3 linked regions of the Homo sapiens genome follow. The protein of the gene in region 2 interacts with the protein of the main gene of each other region in a pairwise test. Each region holds a gene or a part of one and is shown on either strand. Other genes may lie near its edges.

Evidence for each region. Proteins that work in one complex are often made in the same cells at the same time.
Region 1: the proteins of CLVS2 (region 2) and S100A7 interact in binary tests that used the Homo sapiens proteins (3 or more experiments, as listed by UniProt).
Region 3: the proteins of CLVS2 (region 2) and GSTZ1 interact in binary tests that used the Homo sapiens proteins (3 or more experiments, as listed by UniProt).

Annotation. Positions count from the first base shown.
Region 1 is NC_000001.11:153,457,641-153,465,428, forward strand, and holds S100A7 (protein S100-A7), read right to left. Parts: upstream 3,012-7,788; 5' UTR 2,968-3,011; intron 1,391-2,967; 5' UTR 1,374-1,390; coding exon 1,233-1,373; intron 331-1,232; coding exon 166-330; 3' UTR 104-165; downstream 1-103.
Region 2 is NC_000006.12:122,999,232-123,006,255, reverse strand, and holds part of CLVS2 (clavesin-2), read right to left. Parts: intron 1-7,024. UniProt on the Homo sapiens protein: Required for normal morphology of late endosomes and/or lysosomes in neurons. Binds phosphatidylinositol 3,5-bisphosphate (PtdIns(3,5)P2).
Region 3 is NC_000014.9:77,324,023-77,331,046, reverse strand, and holds part of GSTZ1 (maleylacetoacetate isomerase), read right to left. Parts: intron 6,509-7,024; exon of another isoform or gene 6,443-6,508; coding exon of another isoform or gene 6,425-6,442; intron 6,178-6,424; coding exon 6,126-6,177; intron 4,210-6,125; coding exon 4,142-4,209; intron 3,576-4,141; coding exon 3,495-3,575; intron 3,136-3,494; coding exon 3,010-3,135; intron 1,925-3,009; coding exon 1,846-1,924; intron 1,293-1,845; coding exon 1,240-1,292; intron 738-1,239; coding exon 688-737; intron 1-687.

The DNA.
Region 1 (7,788 bases), on a different chromosome or scaffold from region 2:
ACCCACTGGATGGGGGTGGGGGAAATTCTCCAACAAAGTTAACCTGGAATTGGTAGTTTTGACAACGTAGGTCACCAAAGAGAAGAAGAAAATAAGGCAAGTGTCTGGTGGGAGAAGACATTTTATTGTTCCTGGGGTCTCTGGAGGCCCATTGGTGGGGCTGGGTCACTGGCTGCCCCCGGAACAGGGCGCTGCTCCATGGCTCTGCTTGTGGTAGTCTGTGGCTATGTCTCCCAGCAAGGACAGAAACTCAGAAAAATCAATCTTCTTATCCTCATTCTTGTCCTTTTTCTCAAAGACATCGGCGAGGTAATTTGTGCCCTTTTTGTCCTGTGAAGAGAAAAACATACAAAATAGAAAAATTCAATCACAAACAAGTTTTGGGCTGGGAGGGAGAGGAGGAGGCAGAGATACAGACAAGTACCTAGATCTGCACAGGCATGGTGGCGGGGCTGAGAGCACAGGGTGAGTGGGTGAAGTTGGGGTGAGGACGTGAGTGTTATCCCTGGAGTTCTCTAGGGAGTCTTTTTGTCTCACACCTCAGGATGGGAGGCAGGTCCTGTCCCAAGGTGCTCTGTTAAGTGACCTTGGGGAGAGCAGTCCCCTGCCCCAGCCTCACTCTTTCCCGTCCCAGCCTCTAAGGGCACTGCCTACCTTAGTTCTACCCCAGGGCCTCAAAATTGGCCCTCATGCTTTTGTTCTCTTCTTTCTCTGGCCTCCTCTCCTTTCTTCTCCTTTTCCACCAAACTCATCTTCTGGGTATCCTACTCTTGGTCATCTAGACCCTTTGGTACCTAGTAGCCCACAGTTTTTTTTCAGATTTGCTAATGAGTCTTGTTTATTGCAAAGAGGGCTATTGATTTCTACTAACAATGGAACTTCTAGTGCTTTCCCAGTAATCTCAGGGATGTTGATGTGGGGCCTTTGGGAAACAGGACCTGAGCATGTGAGTTTCAGTCTCACAGAGAGAGGGTCAGTGAGTGCTGGGAGGGGACTGTGCACTGCCCTCAAGCTGCACACTTTGCTGACCATCTAATAACCTCCTTTATATCTGTATAACTCTTTCCCATTTTCATACTTTTTTGCCTACCATCCTTAGATTCACATATGATCCAAGTAATAAAGCCCTATTTGCAAATGGGAAATTTTTTAATCAGAGGGTGAGGGTGATCTGTCCAAGGCCACATAGCAAAATGTATCCTCCAACATTGAGAAGCTAGACACCGACTCACACAGGCACTAAGGAAGTTGGGGAAGTTCTCCTTCATCATCGTCAGCAGGCTTGGCTTCTCAATCTTGTCATCACGTCTGGTGTATTTGTGAAACATGTCGATCATGCCTATTATGGACCTCTCAGCTTGAGTGTTGCTCATCTTTGCTTTCAAAAAGCCTTCAGGAAATAAAGACAATCATTTTTTTCCCTTCATTTAAGTTAGGGTCTCTATTTGGGAGTGCTGGAAGGAGGGCTGAGGACAGAGTAAAAACACGGATAAGGTGTAGCAGAACGAACTCAATTTTTTTTTAATGTGATGGGATAAGTTGCTCAAAAATGAGAGGGTAGGACCAAGTCTGAGACCTGGCCCATCCTGGCCAGGGCCAAGAGGAGATGCAGGTGGATGGCGGAAGTCCAGCTGTGGACAGTGCTTCAGAGAGGGAGAAGCAGGGAGAGTCGGGCGCCAGCAACACATGGAAGAACTAAGCTGGGACACCCCAGCCTCAGCCAGCACATGGCAGACCCCACTCTTAAAAGAGCACCAAATCCATCTCCTCCAGCTTCACAGTCGGGGTGACAGTCATGGGGGCAGGACAATGGCCTTGGTGATCTGGTGTCTGACCCTCCTCGGCTGCTTCAGGAACCAGACACCGTGGGCCCCACCTTGACTCAAGTGCAAGCCCTGCATGACACGGTGTGTGCAGGCTCCAGGTGCACATGTGAGCGTGGACGTGAGTGTTAGCAGGAAACACAGTCCTGTCCCGAGCACAGGGGGCCCTTCTTGTATTCCCTTGGGAACGAGAAACAGGAATGGCCTCTGTTACAAGGAACAGAAATAACTCTCTGGTTCTTAAGCTGCTGGACGGGGTGGGAGTGAGGTGGGAGTCACTTCATGTCTGCTCTTGGGAATTATCTGCACCCTCTGAATCACCAAGCCTTGACTGTTTAAATAAAAATGTCTGACTTCCCAAAGCAGATCTTTCAGCCAGTAGTCAGTCTGGGCTGGCCTGCACCCCAAGCCTGAAAAATAGGACAGTGCAGTTCTCACTTCCCACACTTTCCAAAGAACCAGGAAAGGACCTTGGCTAATGCATATGGGTGTCTGACAATAAACCCCCAACACCTCTCAATGCAGGAGAAAGCTCCATGCCGGCAACTGACTAAGAGGAGCCACCCAGAGCTTTTTTGAATCTGAGGCCAAGGCCAGAGGGCAAGCCCTGTGCCCAGAGGGTGACTGACAATTTGCAGGTTGTGGTAGGGAGTGACGGAGCGTTGGTTTCTCAATACCTTACCCAGGTAGGGGCAAGCCATCTGGCCAGGGCTATGCTGTGTCGGGGTCCCAGGCCTGGGGGTTTGGAGAGCCTCCAAAGCATTCACAGGGGACCCCTAGCCCTCCACCCTCTGTGGAGCTGGAGCTGGGGAGGGGATTTAGCAACCGGGACCCCAACAGGAGGATGAATCCAGGGAGGAAGAGGACAGGGAGGGTCCTGTGCTCAGGTCCCACTGGGGACATTTCCACAGGAGTTGCCTCAGGAGATCCCAAAGGAGCAATGGACAGGTCTGGTTCAGCCACCTGGTTATACAGACGTGGGCTTTTGGGGTCAAGTGAAGGTCACACAGCCCAGCTAATGGCAGAGCTGGCCTAGACCCAGGCTTCTGAGTCTTTGTCCACAGCCCTTTCCCTTCCTACAGGCAGCATGGCAGGCCAGGCACTGGGCACTTCTAGAAAACGCAAAGAGGCAGGTGAGACTTACCAGAGCTGGGAAGCGTCACGAGTAGAAGGATGAGTGAGATGTGTGTGTTTGGACAAAGAGCAGTCCTTTATAAGGCTCAGCCTGGCTCTTCCCAGGGGCTGGGAGGCCTGGGGCCACCTCTGTCATCTGTTTCTTGGAGGCTTGCCCCACATCAGGTGGGTGGGACACACCCAGGAGGCTGTGCTCAGGATTTCTGGCCAGTGTCCCAGGTCACCAGGTCCCACCCCACCCCAGAGACCTCACCTGGAGTCTTCTCTGGCTCAACCTTGATTTGAGGGTAAGGCAGCGGTACATGTGTAGTAGCAGGTCAGAAAATGGGAGAAAAGAGCACTGGGCCTCTGGACCCAAAGAGGATGGAGTTTCAGACTCCTGAAGGCAGCATGGTCTTGTTTGTTCCCTCCCCTTATCCTTCCACACATTTGTTATGACAGCCTGTTCTATGACCCCCACCGCTGACTGAGCATTTTAATGTCTAGATATCAAGATACCTGCTGCTCCTGCATCCTCCTCAACCCTCATAGTCCTAAGAGGTGCTTCAATCTCTATTTTAGGAAAGGAGAAGTTGAGATGTTCCCAAGTTTACTCAGCTAGTAAACACAACAAATCATTATATGGACTCAGAAAAGCCTGAATCAAATCCTTACTCTTATCCCCTGTGCTATAGGTCTTGGGTCACATCAGGGTCTGCCCTATGGGAACTCAAAGTCCAGGGAGGGAAGCAGGGTTACTTCATTGCTAACCATTGGTCAGCCCCTCACAGAAGCCCTGGAATTAGGTGGGGGGACTGGGGTCAGGGGCCTCACTATCTAGGTTGAGTGGTGGAGTGACCCCCCCATGGAATGAGCCTGGAGGCAGGGAGTGGGAAAAGTTCTTTCCTGCCCCATGGCACTAACTTCCCAGAAAGTCTTCAGTGTTTTTCCTCCTCCTATGCAAAACAGCCTGTGTAGGAGTTGGGAGTTGTGCCCTTGGCTATAATGTGCCCTAACCTGCTGTGGAAAGGCTGACCCAGGTAGGGGCAAGAGGGTTGGGAAGGCATGGGAATCCCTGGGGCATGGTGAGGAAAGGGAGATGATGAATCACTGAAATGGACTTTTTCTGCTACCCCCTTGCAATGTTCCTTTTAGGGTGCAAGAGAGTTCCAGGTTCATTTAGTGCCAGCCCTTTAAGCACTCTGGGGCTCCACAGAGCTGATGTGATGTCTCCCTAGGTGGGACCTATTTTCTCCACCCATCATCTTTCTTCAACTTCCTTCTCGTCAGTACCTATGTAACCAGGGGGACCTGTTTCTCCCTCTCCCAGTTCCCCATGTGATGGCAATATTACTTTTAACAGCAAAAGATACATACACACACACACAGTGGAATGCTACTCAGCTATAAAAAAAGAATGAAATCACGCTTTTTGCGGCAACATGGATGGAACTGGAGGCTATTATCTTAAGTGAAATTACTCAGAAAGTCAAATACTGTGCAACCTCATGTGTAAGTGGGAGCTACATCATGCATACAGATGGAGGTAGAGAGTAGAATCATAGACACTGGAGACTGTGAAGGGCAGCAGGTGAGGCGGTGGGTGAAGGATGAGACATTTCTTAGTGGGTACAATGCATGCTATTTAGGATGGCTTCATTAAAAGCCCAGACTTCACCATTGTGCCATATATTCATATATATGTGTATGCAGGTTTTTGTGTGGACATAAGTTTTCACTTCTTTTGGGTAAATCCCAAGGAGTGTGATTTCTGGATCCTATGGTAAGAGTATGTTTAGTTTTTTAAGAAAGCACTAAACTGTCTTCCAAAGTGGCTGTACTATTTTGTGTTCCTGCCATCAATGAATGAGAGTTCCTGTTGCTCCACATCCTTCTTCAGCATTTGCTGTTGTCCAGTGTTCCAGATTTTGGGCATTCTCATAAGTGTGTACTGGTATCTCATTGTTGTTTTAATTTGCATTTCCTTGAGGACATATGATGTGGAGCATCTTCTGATATGCTTATTTGTCACCTTCTGTATCTTCTTTGATGAGATATCTGTTAAGGTCTTTGGCCCATTTTCTAATTGTTTGGTTTGTGTTCTTATCGTTGAGTTTTAAGAGTTCTTTGTATGTTTTGGATAACATACAAAGTCTGATATGTCTTTTGTAAACATTTTCTCCCAGTCTGTGGCTTATCTTTTCATTCTCTTGACAATATCTTTCACAAAGAGAAATGTTAAATTTTAAAGAAGTCCAGCTTATGAATTCTTTCTTTCATGGATTGTGCCTTGGTGTTGCCATCTAAAAGTCATCACCAAAACCAAGATGATCAAATTTCCTCTTATGCTACCATCTAGGAGTTTTGTAACATTGTGTTTGCATGTAGGTCTATGATTCATTTTGAGTTATGTATCATCACTGTTTAGAAAAAAGGAACAGAGGAAAAGTAATACAAAAGGAATCAGGGACAACAATATTAATACAAGACAACAAAGAATTCTAAGAAAAGGGATTAAATGAAAAAGAAGAATATTTCTTATTGATTAGTGTGCAAGTCACCAAGATGCGGTAGTCTTATTCTTTTTTTTTCTTTTTCTTTTTTTTGAGACAGAATTTCGCTCTTGTTACCCAGGTTAGAGTGTAGTGGTGTCATCTTGGCTCACTGCAACCTCCTCCTCTTGGGTTCAAACGATTGTCCTGCCTCAGCCTCCAGAGTAGCTGGGATTACAGGTGCACGCCACCACATCCAGCTAATTTTTGTATTTTTAGTAAAGATGGGGTTTCATCATGTTGGCCAGGATGGTCTCGAAGTCCTGACCTCAGGTAATCCACCCTCCTTGGCCTCCCAAAGTGCTGGGATTACAGGTGTGAGCCACCAGGCCCAGCAATAATAGTCCTATCCTTATACACATAAGAACACAATTTTGAATTATATAAAGCAAACACTGAAAGAAATTAATGGAAACTGACAAACTTATATCACTTGGCAGGTTTTGGCAGAGTCTGCCCAGGAACTTCACAAAGCCATCAGATAACAAAACACCAGTAATGGCACAGAGCAGGGCGGGCAGATGCTGCCACAGCCCAGAAGCAGCCCCAGACACAAGTCCCCGTGAATGATGATGGCTGTGTCCAATAAACACTAACCTCCAGAAACAGGTGGCCAGCTGGATTTGGCTTAAAGACCATAATTTGCTGATTCCTGATATAAACTATTTGAAGGACACACTTAAATTTATTTATACACACATACATTCATAAATTCATGCCCAACCATAGAGAATACACATAAATTTCAAACATATTTGAGACATCCAAAAAACTGATCATTTGTTTTTGCTAAAATGAAAATCTCAGCAAATTAGCCTTAATAGGGGCCTTATCTTTTGCACCTGCTCATCAGGTTGAACCCTGTGAGCCCTTCCCCTGTGTCATGTCTGGAACAAACACTCTCCATAAACCCACCCTACTCCATCACACATCCAACCTCTCAGCCACTGCTGATCCCCCAGGAGAGCTCACAACAGGCTGGTCGTGAACAGGAATTTGGCTGGTTGATATCTTCATCTCCTCCATCGTTTTGGGGAGCTCCCCTCTCCCCAGTCTGAGGTAGAAGCAACATACTCCTGGGTCTCTAGAAGATCTCAAGTTGCTGGGGGAAGAGAACAGAAAGCAATTTGTTCTTTTTGCTGTATTTTATCCATTCATTTATGCTGTGAGTGCTGACTCTGTTCTGAGTGTGCAGGTGTCAGGGTGGCAGGGAGATGGATTGAAAGTGGACCGTGCTTTGAGCAATGCTCCGGCCCCAGGAGAGAACTCCAATGAGCCACTGGGTGGTGAGAGAGTGGAGTCGGACAGCGCCCGGAAGCCCCCAGGTCCCCAGGCAGTTCAGTGGCACTTTCTCTGTGAAGCCTTCTCCAGGCAGAGACATCATCCCCATGTCCCTGCGTGTCTCAGTGACAGCCCTGGCCACACATATGCTATGTTTGCTGCCACCCAGCCATGTCTTATATTGTGCCCCCAGCCTCCAGTGCAGAGAACTCCATAAACATTGGCCAAACTAGCAAGTGAGGCAGGTGTCTTCAGAAAGGTTCAGATAAAGTGTGTGAGAATTTGGAAGAGGAGAAATCACTTTTCAGGTGGGGGAACCAGGGGAAGCTTTGTAGGGGCGTCCTTTCAATAGGCCATAGAGCACTTCCAGGAGCCACGGTGAGAGGGACAGGGCAGAGGGAGCCACGGGAATGTTCCGAGACAGCCAGCTGTTCTGTTTGGGGTCCTTCTGGGTGGTGTTGGCCAGCTGCATCTCTGGACTCGTGCAGCAGTTGGGGGAGCGGGACAGAGAGACAGAGAGAGAGTTCTGCAGCATTCACAAGAGGTTATTAGGACTCAGTTCTGCTGTGAGCCATCCACACTGGAGGATGAGAACACCCAGCTGCAGCCCAGAGCCTGTGGTCCCACTGTTAGGTTTTGAAGGGAAGGCAAGGGTTAAAGAAAGACACAGAGAGAGTCGGTGGCTCTATGGCAACACAGGTTTTACATCCAGCACAAGACCTGAGGAGGTGGGGGACAAGCTTAATGCCAGAGCCCCCTGCCGCTTACAGGCTGGCGTAATTTATAGGTCTAGGTGGGGGTCTGGGCAGTATGGCTAGCTCGCCGGGAGGATATTGATAAGATGTTCCTGTGATCAGGCGGTTTGGACCTTTTTCCAGCGGGATGTGATAGGCTGTTTCTTGGACCTTTGCCCCGCAGGATATGATGGGGATGTTCCTTCAGTTGCGCCTTTGCCCAGCAGGGTATGATAAGGATGCTCTTGTGCCTTGCGGTCAGGTGGTTAGGCAGGATGTTTCTCA
Region 2 (7,024 bases):
TGGTACACTCCGATGCTTTATGTTCACTTAAATCTAGGGGAACATTCCCCTTCCTTTTCACCTCACCTAAGTTCTGCCCTCCTCTGGGCCCGCCACCAGCTTTCCCTGCTCTGCAAGATTGTCTTGACCTGCTGGAGACCTCAGCGCCCTCTCTCTCATATTCTGAAATTATAGTGCTTCAGTGTTTGTTCTATGGCCCCAGACATATAAGCTTAGCTTAAAAACTCTTTCACTGTTTGATACCACTTTCTATCTTCAGCACCAAATACTGTTCGCTGCACACTGTGGGTGCACAATAATATATGTTAAAATCAAACTATTTCCCAAGGGCATAGACCATGCTGCTTTATTTTACCTATATCTACATTTACAGTCATCAAAGTGCCATAATGGCATCATTTAAATATAACATTCACTTAAGGCTTCCCTGTCAGCCCAATACAAAACATGCTCCTGGACCAGAAAGAGGACAAGAGCCTTGTCCTGCCACACTGTGGAGGGGTGGCACCCTGCCTGCAATCAGGAGCCCCCTCAATTTTTTAGATCAGAGAAGCTTCTTCTCCTGCCTCTGGCCATGCAATTTTTTTGGTGACTACCTGACCCATGCTTCTTTGCTGGGGTTCTCAGCATCTCCTCCTCTACCATAGCTTTCAGTCAGTGCAAAGATCAACTTAATGACAAATAGGTCATATCCCTCTACTTTTCAACCTTTTCAGCATGACAAGAAAAAACTAGCATCTTGGCATCGCACTGAGCAGCATAACACCAGCAATTTCTCTTTGTCACTAAATCAATCAGCCATTATTAAATTCTTTATTTAGGCTTCCCCCACCCCTCAGTTTTCATTAAGCCACATTTTCTAATGTCTGAAGCACTTCATAGTAGAAGGTGCTAGGGGGAGGGGAAAAAAGGAGAAAAATTACCTTTATTAATGCCTCAGGGTATTATTAGTGGTAAAGCTGATGAAGCCTTCTAGGTGTTTTATATTACTGAGTGGTAATAATAATAATATGTCTATCTGGGTAATAGTTTAAGATTTCCAAAGCAATTTCAAATGCATTATCTTAATCTCAAAACAATTGCAAAATCTCTGAGCTGGATTTGTTCTTATTATTTTACAGATGAGGACAGAGGGTCTCAGAGAAAATTAAACAGTTTGCTTTAAATCACCTTAGGAAAAAAGGGGAACCTAGATTCAAAGCCAAATCTTTCTGATACCACATAGACCAGTGCTCTTTCCCTCTCCATGGTGCCTCCTACTCAGAACAGAGTTTGATGAATAGATAATTGGTTTTTTTTTTTTTTGTTTTTTGTTTTTGTTTTTGTTTTTGTTTTTGTTTTGGAGATGGAGTTTTGCTCTTGTCGCCCAGGCTGGAGTGCAATGGCACGATCTCAGCTGACTGAAACCTCCACCTCCTGGGTTCAAGTGATTCTCTTGCCTCGGCCTCCCAAGTAGCTGGGATTACAGGCGCCCGCCACCAGGCCTGGCTAATTTTTGTAATTTTAGTAGAGACGGGGTTTCACCATGTTGGCCAGGCTGGTATCCAACTCCTGACCTCAGGTGATCTACACGCCTTGGCCTCCCAAAGTGCTGGCATTACAGGCGTGAGCCACCGTGCCTGGCCTGGTCTGCTTTTTCATGGTAGCATAATATATATGTCAGAAAATAGGAGATCAGGAAGTCAATATCCTGGCACTCTCCAGCCTCACCACAATAGGGAGCTTTGGTGGAGGAAAAGCAATAAGACATCCTTAGGACTCAGAATAAGAAATGGCTAAATCTACAATCCCTGGAATAAATATGAACTCTTGAAATTTCATCTGTCTGGCTTGTATTACTGAGCACAGAAGATTAGATGTCTGAGCCTTGCTTTAATTTTACTGCTGTGGGAATGTAGGTGAGTGAGAACAAGAGAATCGTTGGAAATGAAACATCTGCGGGCAAAATGTCTTTCTCTGAAGAAGACGGGTAAAGAAAAAACTTTTGCATCTATTGCCACCAAAAAATAAAACAAAATAAAACAGAATTGTGCTGGGAGAATACAAACACATCAGAAAGCAATTATTTTTATCAGGGCCAAGTACTCTAAGCAAACATCTAGTTAACTAAAGTCTTTGACTTCAGAAAGTTTATTCTTCCATCTTAACGTTCTGTTCCTAATTGCCTGTTTTGTTATATTTAATCGAGATTTTCTAAACCATAGATGGAATTATCTTTAATTATCAGAATTTGATTTTTTTTATACATTTGCCTTTCCCTAGATTTAGGTTGGTAACTGTCTACACACACACACACAAAAAGCGACTAATTCACTTACCAGTTGTATGATCATGAGTGAAGTACTTAATTGCTACAATACACACAGTAGAATTATTTTGAAATGAATAATGAATAAAATGGAACAATAAATGTTGAATTCAGTTAACCAAGCAGGCAATGTCTTTCCTACACAACACTGAGTAGCCCACAGCTGCCCACCTGTCCCCAGCTTCTAGCACTGGTAAACAGTGTCCTCATTAGCTGCATATGACCTCTGATAGTTACTCAGCTTTACATGTTTTTTCTTCCCAGAGAGGTTACATATTGCTTAAAAGTACAAAGTATGTGTCTTTATTTGCCCCCAGTACCTACTAAAATGCTATGTACATAACAAATTCTCAAAGTGTATTTTTTTCAATTAATTTGACCAAAATATTAATCACTCAGTTTGTCATATGGTATCATAACGATCCCACATACAGGAGTATCCTTTCCTTCATGTTACGATAATAGTGTAATAGCCACTTACTATAATAGTGAAATAGATGTACCTGCCCTCAGTAAAGTAAGAGAATTTAACATTTCCCACAGAAAGGAGGAGATGTATTAATTTACTAAGGATAACTTCTTAATATACTAACTATTGGCTCATGTTTTAAAATATCTTTAAACATTTCTTTTGAGGCATCCTTTCAGGACACCGTAGTAACCTCAAGTCCTTTGCTTCTCGACCTTCTTTAAAGTTGATTTTGAAACATGAAAATAGCTTGGCTCAGGCCAGCCTTAGTCAACGTCCTACTGAAGGTTGGCACTTGTAGTTTTTGCTGTTATTTCGGGATTATTTTACTAATTATTGCATAATTGCCCCAGTTTTTGGAGATTGTCCTATTTTTGCAGAGATTCATCACCATATTCCTCCAACATTTCTCAGGACAACTTTTTTTCCTCCCCTATTTGCCATGATATGTACCAAGATTATAGTTTGGAATAAGTTGCAGTTAGCAGAGGATTTGTTAAAAGAGTTTCCCTGAAAGGAAGCAAGATGGAAGCTCTGCTGGGAGAGAAGTCCCATGGAATACATATCTGCCATTTGTGGTTTTGCCCTAACCAGTATCCACCCAAAAGATGGCAAAGCCATGCCTCCAGAATTTTTACGAAAAGGACTCCTAGACTCCAGACTCTGCCAGTAGGTATGACAATGTGAAGCAAAAAGCTGGGAATTATTTAATATGTTAATAAACTGAGAAAAGAATTCTTGAAAAATTAAGCTGAAAAATTAAACTTCTTATTTTTTTGCTTTTTTTGTTGCAGAGTAAAAATATTTCTCCATAATTATCTGGATAATTGCCCTGGACTGTTTTAATCTATTCCTGTTCATTTTATTTTATTTTATTTTATTTTATTTTATTATTTTTAGTACAATTCCAGAGATGAGTAAAGCTTTGTGATTGGCATTAATGCCCATCTGTGTAGTCTATGGCTATGTTTTAAATTGTAAGTTATCATCACCATAACCTTCTATTCTGAACATTGGCCATATTATTTTAGTAAATGCAAGCATAATCATAATTCAAACTGAACCACAAATAGCAACCATTCATACAATGTTTGCTTTTGAATGAAAAAGCCACACAATAGGAGCAAACTGACAAGTTTTTTGGGCAAATTCCAGGATAAGTTAGAGTATCATATCAATGTCTGACCAATCAGTTTTCTGCCCCTTCCAGAGCTTCGCTACTGTAAGTGGTAATCAATGTCCACTATGATAAGCCAAAGACCATGCAAGGTGGCCAGTGCTTTCTGGATTGCCACCATATTAAGAATCATTTTGGTTCTAACTGTGTTTGTTTTCGAATGGCCATTAACTAGATTCCAGATAAATGGTTGTTTGCTATACTAAAGTTCAGAGAATTACTGAGAATTACTGTTTCTAATGACTATTAACCATATTCCAGATAAATGGTTGTTTGCTGTACTAAAGTATAGTGAAGTACATACTTCTAATGAGATCTAGAGAAATAAAATATGACTTGCAGGCTGACAACTTACAGGTGAACTCTGACACTTCCTATCATCATTATGTTTCAGGTGACACAATTTCACTCATGAATATCTCCAACAATTATGTGACAGTGGATTTCAACTTCCTAGATACATGCTTGCATGCTCTAGGACCTAGAATGCCATGTACTTTCTTTCCAAGCTTCCTTTTCTCCAGCAGTGTTAACCTCTGCTAGCTTTACGGCACATTATCCTCACACCTGTTGATAAGATCCTGCGAACCATTTGAAGGTATTTGCTGAGTCCTAAGCAGGTCACTACCATTTAGGAAGGAAAACAATATGCAATACATGGAGGACGAAGGCATCTTTGTGATGCAGTGTAACAGTCAAATAGTTTTTAATTCCATGGCATTTACTTTTGTTGTCAGAAATTATGTAAGGCAATCTAAAAGGAGATAAAATTATATGAATCTTTTCCAAGGTACAGCTCAATAAATGTAACAGGTCATCTGGGCTTGCCCTATTGTTTTTTGGAAGAACCACAGGCCACACTGCAACTCATTTTGACATTTGAGTATTTCCATTTTTTTTTAGATTTGTTAGAAGGTGGGTACACTGTAAATATTAGGATTTTATGTTAGTCTTCTTAATGATGCCATGTCTCTCAAAAAGGCTTTGGAAATCATCCAATTCTTTACAATAACCTAAAAGTAAACTACACTAAATTGCAGCAGAAACAGACACTATTTTATTTATAGTCACTGTCTCACACGGTTTTACTGTTTTCAGTGTCCTGAAGAGCACAGAAAACTGTCCTACAAATTTCATATAGGAGAAAGCGTATATCAAATAAATCTCTACTCAGAATTCTTTTTATACAAATGCATAACTCAATTCAACTCAAATATTTATTGAGCATCTACTCTAGTTCAAGTGCCGTACTAAATATAATAACATGACAGTCTTTTTGTTAGATCAATTCTATTGGGGGTCTTTACGAATTGTTTCAAAATTCATAAAATCTTGTTTTTCCTTTTGTAGTTGGAAAATTATAAATAACCTGTTTTCCAAATAAACTGAGGCATTTTCTTCCGCCTCATTTCTAGAATTTATCTATGTAATCATCTACACTTCTCACACACTGTTTCTTTAAAACAGGCTACTTTTTAAGAAAGTTGTTGAAAGCCAGGTGCTTCACTTAACAACTCAAAGAATGTTGCCAGGATTATTTTCAGACATGCAGTCTTCTGGAGAAATCCAGGTAGCTTTGGATTGGTGGGATCAGGGCCTGGAAGGTGAGAACATCTCACTCACAGAACAGGGGAGGGATGAGGGATAAGAGAAACTAGCACATGGCATTATCCACCTAACAGAGCAATAATAGTAACTTAAACACCTAGGGAAAGAGGCAGACTTCTGTAGGAGTCAAGGAGCCTTCGGGGTAGAGGAAAGGGACTCAGGCTAAGAAGTGTTGGTAACATCCTGGCATTGGCAGAAAGGCAGCTGTCCTTTGAGTTTCAGAGCAGGAGCCAAGGACGTTTTTATGCACATGCTCCAGTGATAAAGGTTTATAGAGGGTGCAAAGGTGACAGATCTGTTTGTCTACTAGTCCCTGTCATTGGGTTATGTAGATTTAGGATAAAAGGAAGGTGGGAAAGAAGAGGGAATTATTATTTTTTTAATATAGGAAGAAATTCAACTGAAATTTTGACTAAGCTCTAAATCACTTGTATACCTTTTCACCTTGAGGTGCGATAATTTCTTGATTATACCTGTTTATTTCCAACCATAGAAATAGAATTCATAATTACAAGTCTAGACATCTTGACAGGAAATTTCTACAGAACACAGCTTCTCATTTTGTTCTAATACACATTTTAGTATTTAAGATTATGTGTAAGTTTAATGAAATGTAATTCTATATACCAATTATTAACTCCGTTTCCATTATAGATTTCTAGGGAAAGAGAATTTGATTACTAGTTGTCTGCCCTTTATATGGAAGCATGAGATAGACAACTAAAACACAGTGTCTCTAATAAATTCAGAATTATCACTTTCTCATATATATGAAAACTATAAGTGACTTTCATCTTAATTAGGTTTACAAATAATTATGAATATTAGTTCACTTATAGAAATTCATGAAAATAGGTCTGATATATATGTATGCCTCTCTGAATGCAATCTGCCCCCATAATGGTATCTCTAACAGACTTCGAGATTTATATAAATATAAAATTTCCAGGTTCCATTTCACTATAGCTCAATTAACAAAGTTCCAATCTGACATACAGAATATTAGTTTTTTCCTTGAATAAAATTTTTCAGTTCTGTTATACACAGTCATTGATTTGCATGATCCTACAATGTACTTTTAGGATGAAAAGAAAACATTTTTAAACAAAAATTGTGGTCAATGAATAAAAAGTTGTAATTCTTTAAAATTTTCAGCTACCTGATAAAAAGTGGAATAACATCTCTATAACTGGCCAAAGTAAGTAACAAAACTCCATTCCCTCTGAATGGCTAACTCTGTATGAGTTTCTTAGCATTATGAATCTTCAGGTAGTAGTTTGTCTTTCTATTTGCCTAAAAAAATTGGAGTGATTGTCAACCTAGAATTACAGGGAAAAAAATCACAATAAAATGAGAGAAAAAATAATTAAAAATATTAATTTACATTCTAAGATACCAAGACTCGGAAGCCTATCTGGAAATCTCTATGATCCATAAGCCCTCTTGGTAACTGTAAATGTCT
Region 3 (7,024 bases), on a different chromosome or scaffold from region 2:
AAGCTAAGGTTTTCAGGGACACAGGGAGACTGCCCTGATGCAGCAGGGGGAGCAGAGAGGCAGGGCTGGATGAGGTCGAGGGAGCTGTCCAGGGAAGGACGATGGGGCAGCCCTTATTCACAGGGGATGGGTAGGTCTTGTGCAGTATCATTTGGCATCTGTTACCTACTGTTCCTATTTCTTTGTGAACCTGCTATGTGTAAGGCCCAGTGCTAGGCATTTATATATACAGACTCTCTTCCCCCATGTTGTAAGCTTCTTGGGGGCAGGGAATGTGCCATACGTTTCCATATCCCTAACGCCTAGCATGATGCCTTCCAGAGAGGTGCTCATTTGTGCCCTACCAAAGGGTTCACGGAAGGATGCAGAGGTAGAGCTCACTACTGCTCACAGACACACCACATTTGAGGACATCAGGCAGGTGCTCTTGGGGGTCCACCAGGTGAGCCACCTCCTCTTAGGAGCTGGGGCTATCTATACAGGTTCATCTGGGCTGTGGTGGGCGTAGTAGGAGCACTGCCCCAATTTCTTCTGCCCTCTTCCAGGCAGAAGTGGCTATGTGGCCTGGCATGGTGGGCTCCTTGGCTGGTTGGCGAAGCGTCTGCATGAGATGCTATCTCGCCAGCTGAGTGGGGCCTGACTGTGGGCAGAGCCACGAGAAGGGAGGGTGGCGGGGCTCTCTCTTACCTTTCAGCATTTGCCACCTGAGGCACCAAGCACAGATCAGCCATGGTCACCTGAAAGAGGTCCCGGTGGGTTCCCATCAGGGTGCATACCCCAGAGTCAGTGGCTGGACTGGGTGTGTCCACTGCGACTCTACTGGGGGTACCAACAATCTGCTTCGGCTCTTTCACCCATCCCACCTCCAATTCTTGTCTGCCCTAGGCCTGCATGAGTCTGTCCCCCGGAGCTGAAGTGCCCTCCCAGGCCATGCTCCAGTTGCCCTGACAACCAACTCTGTGGGTTGAGAGGGCCAGAGAAGATGGATTGCCTTGACTGCGCAGACATCATCTAGCACAATCCCTCAACTGATGCTGGCCCGCCTCATCCTCTCACAGCCAGTCTTCTACCTTGAGTAACTCCCTCTTAAGACGGTTTAGTGGGAGTGAGCTGAGGAGTGCCCCATGGCACAGAGATCCCCCTGCAGACGCCTTCTCAGGAAGCTCTGAGCTTGAGGGAGGTCAGCATGAGGGAGGCAGCCACTGTGGCTGGGCCTGGGGAGGTCTGGGGACAGCTTACCTCGTCTCCTACACAGTATATGCCCGCTGTGCTCTGTAGGATCTGCTCCAGGGCTGTGGGGAGGCCACATAAACATCTTATTCTGGGCGCAGGGAGGGGACACAAAGCTTTCTGGGCCTTGGCCTCCATAGTTATGAAATGGGCGCCCAACTGAGTGACAGACTGGGCATGGCTGCTGGTGAGAATGTGGCAGCCAGGTCTCGAGAGAGCTGTTAGGGATGAGCTGCTGTTTCCTGAGGCTCCGCACAGACAATCACCATTTCCCCACTCGAGTGGACAAGCCCTGCCACTGGCCACGGTGACAGCTCTCACTCTGATGGCTGGCGCTGTGCTGGCCTTGGTTTCCCAGCTGGAGTAGGCAGTGAAGCTGAAGTTGGGCCATCCAGCTATGAAGGGCTGTGGGCTCAGGGACCGAGGTTCCCAGAAGTGCTGGAGCTAAGGTCTGGATGCCCACCCAGCCCATTGCCTCCCCAGTCCTGCCCTCATCCATGCAACTGTCAGGCCCAAAGCAGCCTGGGAGGCTGGTTCAGATACCCAGGCCCCTGTGTGCGAGGGCCATACCTCTAAGAGGCCACTGTGGGGCAGCTCACAGAGGTGAGGACTCACCGTTAAAGCCACAAGTGATGGCGTTCTGGGCCCAGGTCAGCTGCATCTCCTCTCCCACTTGCTTCAGGACAGACAGGTTCTGTGCAGCCCAAAGAAAATCTGTGATTGCGCTGACAGCTGGGTGGGGGCTACCCCTTCGCCAAACCCCCTCAGGGAAGTTCACTTCCCATCTGCCCCTGGCTGGATGTCTATCCCTTCTCCCCCAGGCTCCATGAGCCCCTTCCTTCAACCAAGGGCCCTGAGGTTGGAGGGAGGTAGCCATCCCAGCAGCCACCTTTGCAGGCTGCCCCAGTGGCCTCAAAAAGCCACGTGATTCTGTCAGAGATGTGCAAGAATCCCTATTCATGTGACACAGGACGCGGCCATGGCTGTGGCAGGTGTGCCCACAACTCGAGGCCTGTCTCCCTCACTTCTCCCTTGCATGGTCCCTTGTGAGGAGAGGGAGTGTGAAAGAGGGTGGGGCTGGGATGAGGGAGGTCCACAAGACCGGCTTCCAGAGATTTCCAGCCTGGCTCCATCTTGGCACCCCTGGAGCCATTTTCCCTCTGTTTCCTCATTATAAAATGGAGATGTCTGTCTGCTCCAACATCCTTTGTTAAAGCGACATGCGGGTAGAGGGCATAGGCATGCAGGGATTCTGACTTAGTCCCCACTTTGTTATGACCTACCTGTGGGACTCCTAAGTCACTCCACCTTTCTGGGGCTATTTCCTCATTCAGAGTAGAAGCTGGCACAGATGAACTGTTTTTAATACTTAGTTGTCTGTTTTAACAGTGACACTTAAAAAATAAAATCCTACAAGTATCCCAGTATATGACTGAGATAGCACAGATGAAACGGAAGCTGCTCTGGTTAAAGGCAGGAGGCCTGGACTGGGGCCTGCTCAGTCTCTCCCCTGCCATTCTGGCCCTTTCCCCACCCCAAGCACCTGTACATGCGTCCTTGGAAACTAGAGCTTCTCGGAACGCAGCGGGGGACCCGCTGGGGGGCTGAATTCTGAGATTGCGATCTTCACCCCCTTCTTTCACATGGTCCAGGTCAGAGGCCCTGAGAATCCCCCTCCCTCCCTTGACACCCCCGCCCCCACACTGGGCAGCTCACAGCCAATGTGTGAGTGTAAGAGTGTGTCAGGTGTGCAAGGGTGCAAGTGTACAAGTGCCACACCTGCAGGGGCTGGATGCCACCAGCGATGAGGTCAGAAATCATACGCACGCTGGCCCTCTTCTTTGGGTCCTGAGGCAGAAGTCGCGGAGTGGGACGCATCTCCTCTAGATACTCAATGATGGCCAGCTGTCCAGAGGGGAGCAGTGAGGCAGGGAGAGGGCCCAGGACCCCTGGACCAGAGGGGACAGGGCCAGCAAACTCCTCCTTCTCCTCTTCCAGCACCATCACTACACCTCTTCCCCCCTGCTTCTGCTCAGCTCAAGCCCTATAAGCCTTTTTGGACCTTATCATGCAGAACTTGGTTCTCCATGTGCTTGAATCTTCCCTTATTTTCCTAAATAACCTCGCACCCTCCCCACGAGTCTTGTATTGAGCCTCTCCTATGTGCTAGGCACCTTGACTGTACACAGGCGAGGAAGAGATGTCAGGCGCTCTCATTCAGGGCACTGCTCTCATGAGGGCCCTCCCCCAGGCCCTGCACTCACTGACTGGTGAATGGTGATTCCATCAATCTTCAGGGTTGGCACCTGCTTCATAGGATTCAGTGCCTGGAAGTCCTTAGAAAACTGTGGAGACAAGGCCCTGGTGGGCTGGGTGGCCTGGCCTGAGTTGGCCAGAGGAAAGCCAAGCAAGCAGGAGAACCCCAGGCCTGCCACCCACCCCCATCTCCCTTCCCTGGGAAGGCCCTAAATCCTAGGCCCAGGGTAATCCCTGGGGGATCCATGCAGTCTCCCAAAGCCCAGCTGCTGCTGAGCCATAGGCTTCATCCTAACAGCCTGGCTATGGGCTTTCCCTGCATCTCACACCGTGGCCACCAAGGCAGCTCCTACCCTAGTCAGCCATCCAGAGGGCCCAGTATGGGGTGGGGACCCACTAGCCACCCACCCTCCCAGGGTCAGGCACTGGAGAGCCCAGGCTAGGGTACACAGTCTGGACCTGGGCCCTTCCCAGGCCTCCTGCTACTGCACACCTTGCCACCTTGTCCCACAAGGGAGAGCCAGCAGCCTCCTGCAGTGATAGTCCACAAGACACAGGTTCACTTCTCTGGGGCAGAGCCTCCCCTTTTTCCCCTGCCTGGTGCCTGTTCAAGGCCTCCAATTCCCACATTGTGGTCTGGGCACAGCCTTCTTACCTGTTGGCCCCCATCCTTTATGAGATTGATGGGCACCGTCTCGTAGTCGATGCCTTTCAAGGCCAGAGCTAGGAGAGACCGCACATAGCGGAGTCAAAGAACAGCCTCTCGCCGTACTCTTAAAGGAAAGAGCCCTTCTAAGGTGACATTAAGGCCAAAGAGGGGGAGGCTTCTCTAACACTTCTGGGTGGTCAAGGCTCACCGTGGCACTATCCCCTTCTCTCAGCTTTCCTTGTCACCACGTGCTCCCTACCCCAGATGCACGATGCTCTGCCTCACTCACCCCTGAACTCTTAGAGACCTCAAGATCTGGACCCCCCCAATGGGGCCCTCATGCCCCCTGGATGGTGATAAAGGTGTATGCCCTGGCACTCTGTGGGCTCCTGGAGTTCAGCAAGGCTGTGTTGTGTTTAACTCTGCCCCCCCAGGGCCTTAAACAGTGGTGACCAGTGTCTTGGTTGAAGACATGCAATTACTCCCTCAAGAAGGCAACTAAGGGCCAAGGGAAGGAGCTCAGGTGGCCACACACAGCACACACAGACAGATGGCACTCTTGTTCTGTTGGAGAAGAATCTCTTCCAATCTATTCTCTCTGTTCTCAGGGCTGTTTACTAGAGATTCTAGACAGGCATCAGGCTCTTTGGTGGCCTCAGAGCATTTGCCGTGACTCCAGTCACCAGATTTCCTCTCCATCCCTTTTGATAATTTCCCCTGGCAAGCTGAGGGTAAAAAAAACTTGGGTGGGTCAACACTAGTGGAGAAGACTGCGTGCGTGTGCATGCATGTGTGTATTACACACACTTGGGCATTCAAGTATGGTGATGGCCAATCTCAGGGAAGGGCAAAGGAATGAGGGGAGGAGGACCAGACATGTCATGGTGTGGAGAGCCTGGGCAATACCAGGCTCCTCCTAGTGTTGGTCAGCTCCAGTCTGGGGAGTGACAGTGTTTGGGGCTGGAGGAGACACCTGGAGGAGGGAAGGCCAAAGCACACAGGCCGTACAGACAGCACCTATATTGCTCCGGCTTCTGGCTCAGCCAGGGCAGAGGTACTGGCGCCCAGGGATGGGTTCATCTTCTTGGAGGAAAGTTTCTCCTGGCACCCAGTGCTCTTGCTTACTGATCCCAGCAAATACCAAGTGACTATGGGATGGAGGAGGGGTCACGGAGGATGGCTTTGCCTCCACACTCTGGAGGCAAGCTTCTTGGGTTCAAATTTCATCACAGTCATTTGCTAACTGTGTGGCCCTGGGCAAGTAACTTAATGGGCCTCTGGAGCCAGACTACCTGGTTCAAATTCCAGTTCTGCCTCTTAGTAACTGAAAGATCTTGGGCAAGTTACTGAATGTTGCCTGTTTTTTGTGCCTCAGCTTCCTCCTCTATACAATGGGGACAGTAATAATAGTACCTCCCTCCTAGGGTTGCTGAGGTTTAAATGGAATCAGGCACACAAAAGCACTCAGCACAGAGCTTTTCCTCAGTACAGGCTGCTTTGGTTATGACCTTTGCCAAAGGCTGTGTTAAGCCAAGGGAGGGAAGGGTCAAACAAGGACTAGCCACAGGGCCCTTGTTTCTGCTTTTCTGAAGCCTCCGAGGCTGATGCTGGCCCGTTCTGTTTGCTTTGCCAGTTCAAATAAAATAAGAACTGAGAAGGGCCAGCTGTTCCCCTGCCAGTTACCAGGGGCATGTGGATTTTGTGACCCTGCTTTAAACATGGTTGCCAAGGGGCTTTGGAGAGCAGTGTTGGGAGAAGTGTCAGTCCCAAGGGAAAAAACAACCCCCTTCCTCCCACCCTCACCCTGTGTTTCCGGGGTGGAGATGCCATGCAGGGATGGGGGTTCTAGGAGCCGGGGGATGCTGGTTGCTGGGGGTGAGGTCCTCTCTGACAGAGCAACCCTTCCATCCCAGGCCAGCTTTGCACCCGGGCTTATCCGCCCCAGTCCACCCCACTCCAGCACTCATCCTGGAGGAGGCACATCTCTTACCAATTCGAACTCTCCATGAGCAGGAGCTTCGGAAATAGGAATAGAGGATGGGCTGAGGAGAGAGAGGATGAAGGCGCGTGTTAACCCATGCTGGGTGGGCTCCAGCTTGGGAGGAGTCAACCATTTCTTCCTGTCCTGCCAGGCCTCCTCTCTCAGGCCTGCATCTGTGCAAATCAGGGCAGACTCCAAGCTCTCTGAGAGGCTCATGAGGTCCCTTGGCTCCAAAATTATGCTGGTTTGAGCTCCTGAGGTCCAAGAGGCCCCCAAAGGGGCAGCTAGCCTGAGAGTGCCTTCCATACCTTGCCAGACTCTGTCATGGTATCGTGGTGACCCTCAGCCTCCCAGGAAATGTCCCCTCTGGCACAGCTTCTGAGCAGGGAAAGGAAACCTAAAGGGGTGGATTTCAGGAGCCAATGGGGAAGCTGGGCTACCCAGGCATTGGGGGAACTTTGACTCTGGTCAGAAAGGGCATTTCTGGCCAGGCACAGTGGCTCACGCCTGTAATCCCAGCACTTCGGGAGCCAAGGTGGGTGGATCATTTGAGGTGAGGAGTTTGAGACCAGCCTGGCCAACATGGTGAAACCCTGTCTCTACTGAAAATACAAAAAAAAATCAGCCAGGTGTGGTAGTGGGTGCCTGTAATCTCAGCTACTCAGGAGGTTGAGGTAAGAGAATAGCTTGAACCTGAGAGGTGGAGGTCACAGTGGGCCGAGATCGCACCACTGCACTCCAGAGCGAGACTGCGTCTCAAAAAAAAAAAAAAAAAAAAGGCATTTTTTTCCAACTCGCAGGAAGTTTCTTACGCTCCTGCTGGGGCCAGGTTTGGTGTCCCCCCAACAGAGCGTGGCCTGGTTTTGATGCAGTATTTTGAGTGGTGGAGCGGGCTGGGAGCTGGCATC